2 linked regions of the Homo sapiens genome follow. The protein of the gene in region 2 interacts with the protein of the main gene of each other region in a pairwise test. Each region holds a gene or a part of one and is shown on either strand. Other genes may lie near its edges.

Region 1 (4,259 bases), on a different chromosome or scaffold from region 2:
ATGAATACATGAAATATTTTATATACATAAAACACACTCAAACACATACACACAAAACATTCATGTATTTATTTATATACCTTTCTACAATGCAGGCTCCCTCTCTATATATGCCAACTCCCTCCACCTCTTCCTCACCCATACAAACACACGTTGACACAAACACATATGCACAGACATGTCACCCATGGCCCAGGAAAAGCACAGGAAAATATCCAAGTAAAGATACAAGGATACACAAGGAACTGCTAACATTACTTCCTCCATAGATAGGAATTGGGTAACTGGGGAATGGCCTTGAGCTATATTATTTTGTTGTTTAGCATGTTTTACAAAAAATTTTTTAAAACATGTATCATGTATTCAATTTGTAAACATGTAAATAATTGTGCAAATAGTACTATTCAAAATTTAAATGGGCAATCTACTACATTTACTTCTAGAATGTTTAAATATAGACAGAATCTTAATAAGCTTCTAATTTTAATATGAAATATGAAGGTTAGAGTCTCATATTAAAGGAAACAATAGGGGTATGCAATTAGAAAAATCCCAAGAATGAAAAAGTACAATGAACAGTTAACCTGTTTTATTTAACAAATAAAAGTAAGAAATGAAGGGAGATTTTTAAATTTCAATGATTTAAAGGATATATCACTCAAATACAACGTTTATAGAGCTTATTTTGACTCTGATTGGGACACCAAAATATAAGAAATATATATCAAAAATAGGACTGCTTGAAGACTAAATAGACACTTGTTCATTTTAATTAGTATGTAAATTTTTAAGATATAAAAATAGTGTTTTGATTTTTTAAAGGACCTATTATTTAGATATTAATATTGAATTATTGATTGAAGACATAATATGACTTCTGGAATTTCCTTTCAAACAATCTAGAATGGAAGAGGAAATAGGGTTGAAGTATGAAAGAAATCAGGCTGGCCATGAGATGATCATCATGGAAGCAGGTGACAGGTATATACAGGCCCATTGCAGTGTTCTGCTTCTCTACCTGTTTAAAATTGCACCTAAAAGGTGAAACAATTATGGGGAAATTGTAATATTTCTGTTAAGGAATTCACAATACAGTGCCTGTGATCTCCAACAGCAAGGCTGGAAGAAAGTCAGACTGGGAAGAGGAGGGCACTCAGGGCATGTCGATAAACAGCCTAGCATGCAGAACCTTTGCTGAAGACAGTGACTAATTCCAACTTCATGAATTGAGAATACTCTTATTGTGCTGAGATCTCAAGTCAAAGCTGGAGGCAGGAACATTTTGCCTGACTAAAGGAAGCGAAAAATGCAATCTCGGTATTTCATAACTTTTGTAATAATGCAGGTGTGATCTCACTATTTGTAAAGCCCAGCCCTTCCCAACCTGCAAGCTCACCTTCCAGGACTGGGCCCAGCCCATGCTCTCCATATATAAGCTGCTACTGGAGTCCGATTCCTCGTCCTGCTTCTCCTCCCTCTCGCCTCCAGCCTCTCACACTCTCCTAAGCCCTCTCATCTCCTGGAACCATGGCCAGCACATCCACCACCATCAGGAGCCACAGCAGCAGCCGCCGGGGTTTCAGTGCCAACTCAGCCAGGCTCCCTGGGGTCAGCCGCTCTGGCTTCAGCAGCATCTCCGTGTCCCGCTCCAGGGGCAGTGGTGGCCTGGGTGGCGCATGTGGAGGAGCTGGCTTTGGCAGCCGCAGTCTGTATGGCCTGGGGGGCTCCAAGAGGATCTCCATTGGAGGGGGCAGCTGTGCCATCAGTGGCGGCTATGGCAGCAGAGCCGGAGGCAGCTATGGCTTTGGTGGCGCCGGGAGTGGATTTGGTTTCGGTGGTGGAGCCGGCATTGGCTTTGGTCTGGGTGGTGGAGCCGGCCTTGCTGGTGGCTTTGGGGGCCCTGGCTTCCCTGTGTGCCCCCCTGGAGGCATCCAAGAGGTCACTGTCAACCAGAGTCTCCTGACTCCCCTCAACCTGCAAATTGACCCCGCCATCCAGCGGGTGCGGGCCGAGGAGCGTGAGCAGATCAAGACCCTCAACAACAAGTTTGCCTCCTTCATCGACAAGGTGAGCCAGTGCCATGCCCTCCATCGGGCACTTCAGGGTCCCCAGACCAGAAGAGCAACACCTTCCTGCCGGAGAGACCCTAGGAGGGAGGGAGAAGGGGACTCAGCCCAGCTCTGCAGAGAGTGCAGGTGGCTCTCGGTGCACAGGAGGCAGCACAGATGGGCATCACTCCCCCATGGGATATCTGGAGTGGCCCTCACTCCTGCCTAGGGAGAGCCATAACTTTTCATAACCCTGAAGCACAGATGAGGCCATCAGAGAGTGGAGTAGGTTAATTCTCCCCTCTGAAGTGTTTAAGAGATTACAAAGCAAATGCCAGGAGTATATGGGCTGGTAAATTACACTCTGGGGTCTGGGTAAGAGGAAAAAGATTTAGAAAGAAAAGGAAAAGATAATCTGGCTGGATTAAGAAAAAAAGGGACATAGAAACAACTGTAAAACATGGATAAATGCTAATTAATTTTAAAAACAGAGAATGACCATAACATCAGAATATTTGAGAGGAGACACTAAATGGGAAAGTAGACTGAAATGTAATCATGAGTCAACATCTAATATCCCTCCTAACTAAGATCCTCTCGGTAAAAAAAACTGTGTACAATATATCAGGTAATTAGTATTTTTAAACTAGATTTGTGATTGTGCTTGGAAAAAGAAAAGAAGAAATGTTGAAACTCACTGATGATCAATAGCTTACAGTGCGAGAACACCTCAGTGGTCCGTGGGACAATTTCTCTAGTGAGACTGGTGGGGTGCAAAGGAGAAGGAGTTGGGGGAGCAGAGCTCAGCCTGAGCCTCTCTACATGCACTGTAGTAGCCCAGCACCATGGGGACCTCCCAGACCTCCAGGAAACTGGATACCAGACACTTTCTCTGCCTTCCTTTTCCTGGAAAATGACCATTTTGCTTCCCCTCCAGGTGCGGTTCCTAGAGCAGCAGAACAAGGTTCTGGACACCAAGTGGACCCTGCTGCAGGAGCAGGGCACCAAGACTGTGAGGCAGAACCTGGAGCCGTTGTTCGAGCAGTACATCAACAACCTCAGGAGGCAGCTGGACAACATCGTGGGGGAACGGGGTCGTCTGGACTCGGAGCTGAGAAACATGCAGGACCTGGTGGAGGACCTCAAGAACAAGTGAGGACTCCATTTCCTGCAGCACACACTTCAAGACTATTGGGTGACCAGGGCCAGATGTGTGTAGGATTCCTAACAACCCATGTCCATGGAAATGAAAAGCACAAATTAGTCCCTAGGAGCAAACCTGCAAGAACCACAGATGGTTATGGGAGGATGGGGAGATTAAAGAAATGGCAAATTTAGTAGTAGCAAAATTCATCTCTTTGGCTCTCTGTGGCAGGAAAGCTCAATTAGAATATATTCCATTCAGGAAAATGTTGAATCCCAAGCTGCTTTTCTGTTTCATCCTACCCACTGGCTCAAATGTGTCCCATGCCTTTCTTCCTGTAGATATGAGGATGAAATCAACAAGCGCACAGCAGCAGAGAATGAATTTGTGACTCTGAAGAAGGTGAGCAGATGAAGCCAGGGGTTCAAATTCATTTAGAAGGAGAGAAGTGGCTCTGTGTCCTCGCTCCCCTGGGAGAGGAGAATTGGCAGGAGGACTAGAAGATGGGTAGATTGGAAAGGTGAGCTCAGGCAACTCCAGGTTGTTGGCTCTTTCCCCAGGATGTGGATGCTGCCTACATGAACAAGGTTGAACTGCAAGCCAAGGCAGACACTCTTACAGATGAGATCAACTTCCTGAGAGCCTTGTATGATGCAGTAAGCAACTCCACCATCCTTCTGTTTACTCTGATGGGGTCTGCAAAGGGGAGAAGATGTACAGGGCTGGGCATCTCTGTAAATGTCAGAAGTGAAGTTGATCTTATGACCTTCTGTTCTGCAGGAGCTGTCCCAGATGCAGACCCACATCTCAGACACATCCGTGGTGCTATCCATGGACAACAACCGCAACCTGGACCTGGACAGCATCATCGCTGAGGTCAAGGCCCAATATGAGGAGATTGCTCAGAGGAGCAGGGCTGAGGCTGAGTCCTGGTACCAGACAAAGGTGAGCACGGAGTGGACAGCCGCTGAGGAATCCTTGTGTCCATCCCTGAATACCAGAGGACTGCAGACTTCACTGGGGACATCCCCTGACAGGAAGCTGGGGTCCTCTCACAGGACATGCAC
Region 2 (3,500 bases):
GGATTGTCCTCAGGTACTATTCCCAGGAAAGAGGCCCTACAACTTCCAAGTTGCCAAGAGCCACAGGGAAGATGTCTTACCTCTGTTTTCTTGGGTGGTTTCTTGGCTGGGTAGATGTTTTTGGAGGTAAGAGGTCGGGGTGGGGGTGTTGGCCATGGTTTATCCTCTTTTTACCTCCAGAGAGTTGGAGAGAGTCTTCTAGTTGGGCAGCTTTTTTTTTTTCCCCCTGAAAAGGCCTGAATCAGAAACACAGCCAGTAGGCCAAGTGCAATGGCTCACACCTGTAATCTCAACATTTTGGGAGACCAAGGTGGATCACTTGAGCCCAGGACTTTGAGACCAGCCTGGGCAAGATGGCAAGACCATGTTTCTATAGAAATTAGCTGAGCATGGTAGTGTGCACCTATAATCTCAGCTACTAGGGAGGCTGAGGTGGGAGCATTGCTTGAGCCCAGGAGGTGGAAGCTGCAGTGAACTATGATTGTGCCACTGCAGGGGAGAAGGGAAGGGAGGAAAGGAGGAGACAGGCAGATAGCTACATTGTGCATTGCCCAGACAACTACTTCCTCATCACCATCCTCTGCCCAGTAGGGGCCCAGTGAGGGTCACTCTGCAGCACAGACTGGCCTTCTGGAAGAACAGTGCCTTTCTCCTCCCTGACTTTGGCACACCTTCCTCCTGCCTGCTGTGGCTGCCACAGGTCAGAGCCTGCTGCTGTCTTTTGCTGAGCTCCAGGGAGAGCGAGGTCCTCGTGTTCATGAAGGAGGCCGTGCAGCCCCTGCTTTGAGCTTTGGCCATCTGAAATGCTGCCTAGCAGCCCAAGGCCTGGGCAACCAATCCACACCCCTGAGTGGCTCCTAGCATGTGTGACTGTCACTCTGACTGCAGCAACACCTGTCCTACCTGTTCCACACCCTTGTGTTCATAGTACTGAGGCACCTCTCCCGCATGGCCCCCTAACCCCCTGCTCTGTTCTGTGACAGACACCCAAGGACAATGCTGCTACTCTACAACCATCTGATGACACCGTGTTACCTGGCGGTGTCCCTTCCCCTGGTGCCAGTCTCACTAGCATGGCGGCATCTCAGGTTCGTGCCTCCTCCCCCTCTGCCCACTGCCCTCCTGTACCTATTATGCATTATCTTCTCCTTTCACAGGCAGCTTGTTCCCTAGGGTCAAGGGCCCTTCCTGGGGACCGGGCCGGGGGAAGGCTCAGACTGGGCTTTTTTCCTTGAGGCCTGGGGAGATTGAAGATTGTTAGAATGAGTTTGGGAGCTTGACTCACCCCATCCTGGGTGATTCTTACCAGAAATTGAATGACCATCTCACACGTTTCTTCCCAAACAGAATCATGATGCTGACAATGTCCCTAATCTCATGGATGAAACCAAGTGAGTGTCTCCTGTTGGGGCAGCAGTCTCTAGGCTGAGAGAGTCAGGGAGGCCACTGCCCATGACCTTCTTTCCCATTGAGCCACCTGCACCCCTGACCCCTGTGTCTCCATCCCTAGGACTTTCTCATCAACCGAGAGCCTGCGACAACTCTCCCAACAGCTCAATGGTCTTGTTTGTGAGGTACCTCAGGAACTGAGGCCGAGAGCGGGGTGGGGGGAAGGGAACTATGATAGAAACTGAAGCAGGGATTCACAAGAGAGAGGGAAGATCCTGGGACCAGCCAATGTGCTGGGCAATGTTAAGGAAGTCGCCTTTTCCCTGAGCCTTCTCCCTTGAAGTTGTGCACATGAAGGAGTTGGACCCCATGACTGGTTGCATCATTGTATCCTGCTGCAGAAGCACTGGATGAGAGCTGCTCGGGAGGAAAGGATGGTGGGGAAATAAGAACCATGAGAGAAGTTGGCACAAAGGGGTTACGGGACAGAGGGTCCAAGTTAGAAAAGAAAATGTTGCCAATTGCTGGGGAAGAAACGAAGTTAGAGGGCTTAGACACTGAGGGGACAGAACATCTCCATGTGCACTCTCGTCTCTTATAGTCTGCGACATGTGTCAATGGGGAGGGCCCTGCATCGTCTGCTAACCTGAAGGATCTGGAGGTAAGAGGCCCTGGGCCGTGGCCCAGTGACCCTGCAGGCCAGCCCTCCAACCTCCTCCCACAGCGGGGGCTGGGTGCCCCTCTGCCAGCTGAGACAGCCCACACACCCCCCAACCCTAATGATTGCTCTCTCTACCTCTCCCCCCAATCCTCCTCCAACTCCTCCTCTCTGCATGCGCCTCAGAGCCGGTACCAACAGCTAGCGGTAGCCCTGGACTCCAGCTATGTAACAAACAAACAACTCAATATCACGATAGAGAAATTGGTAAGAGTCCAGTGGGGTCCCCTGATTCCATGCTGCTAATCCTGGGCTCCAGTTTCCCCTTGGGACCCTGAAGAAAGGGGCAGGGGGCCCCTGGTGCCAAGGGCGAATGGGGAGCTGGGGGGCCCAGGCCTCAGCTGGAGGGACCCCAGAGCACGGAGCATGCAGCATGGCTCTTCTGTTGCTGCCCTCTTTGCCTACTCTCTCTTCTCTAGACACCCCTGCTCGAGTCCTTGCCACACACGCCCTGGGGTTGTTGCCTCTTGGGGAAGCGCTAGCCTGACTGGTTGTCAGGAGCCCTGTATTTCTGCCCTGACTCAGTCCTTAATTTGCTCTTTGATTTGGGACAAGCCACCTCTCCTCCTTGGGCTTGCATTTCCTGAGGAGGTAGAGTTAGAGAGTATCAAAGGTCTCTTAGCTCTGAGAGTCCAAGATTTAAAGGCCCATTAGAATGTAAACCTCAGGGCCAAGGGCTCCTGTCTGTCTTTTTCTGTCTGGTATCCCTGCTATTAAGAACCGTACCTGGCCTGTGTGTGCTCAGCAAATGTTTGTTGAATGATTACACCTTTCTAAATCACAAACTGGCAGAGGGTGGGCTTTTCTCACACTCCATCTCTAGAGGTTTATGTTACTGTCCTTTCAAGAGAATCGAGATTCAGACTTTCAGTTCTGTGGCTGTGGGCAAAAACCAACAAAGACACAAATCCCCTTTCCTTGAGAGCCTGAGGAGAGTTTACCAGTTCGTGTTCCCATTGGGTCTGAGAACTTTGCCTTTAAAATCCATTCCTGGCCCCTGCCTACCCGTTCCTGGTCTGGGGAATAGAGTTGAGGGGGCCACCCTCAGTCACCTTCCTTTGACTCTTCCCCACAGAAACAACAGAACCAAGAAATTACGGATCAGTTGGAAGAAGTAACGTGATTTCTTTGTTTGCTCACAACATGACTGCTGGGTTTGGGGGGCATTCAAATGTAGAGGCCTCAGTCTCGTCTCACCCACTCCCAGCCTGGGGAAGAAGGCTCACCCCCCCAGATTCCACCCCATCCCCACAGGGTCCCTGATAACCTGGTCCCATGGGTGGGCCTGTCCTGGGACATTGGTGGCATTCTGGGGGCATGTCCCTTGCTGTGCCGTCTCTGCCTCCCCCTCGTAAGAGCTCTGTCTTCCTCTTCCTATAGGAAAAGAAAGAAT

What was found. Proteins that work in one complex are often made in the same cells at the same time.
Region 1: the proteins of GOLGA2 (region 2) and KRT6B interact in binary tests that used the Homo sapiens proteins (3 or more experiments, as listed by UniProt).

The regions. Positions count from the first base shown.
Region 1 is NC_000012.12:52,449,347-52,453,605, reverse strand, and holds the start of KRT6B (keratin, type II cytoskeletal 6B), read left to right. Parts: upstream 1-1,459; 5' UTR 1,460-1,527; coding exon 1,528-2,067; intron 2,068-2,985; coding exon 2,986-3,200; intron 3,201-3,533; coding exon 3,534-3,594; intron 3,595-3,752; coding exon 3,753-3,848; intron 3,849-3,972; coding exon 3,973-4,137; intron 4,138-4,259.
Region 2 is NC_000009.12:128,266,008-128,269,507, reverse strand, and holds part of GOLGA2 (golgin subfamily A member 2), read left to right. Parts: intron 1-983; coding exon 984-1,088; intron 1,089-1,347; coding exon 1,348-1,391; intron 1,392-1,510; coding exon 1,511-1,574; intron 1,575-1,990; coding exon 1,991-2,050; intron 2,051-2,233; coding exon 2,234-2,314; intron 2,315-3,182; coding exon 3,183-3,221; intron 3,222-3,487; coding exon 3,488-3,500. UniProt on the Homo sapiens protein: Peripheral membrane component of the cis-Golgi stack that acts as a membrane skeleton that maintains the structure of the Golgi apparatus, and as a vesicle thether that facilitates vesicle fusion to the Golgi membrane.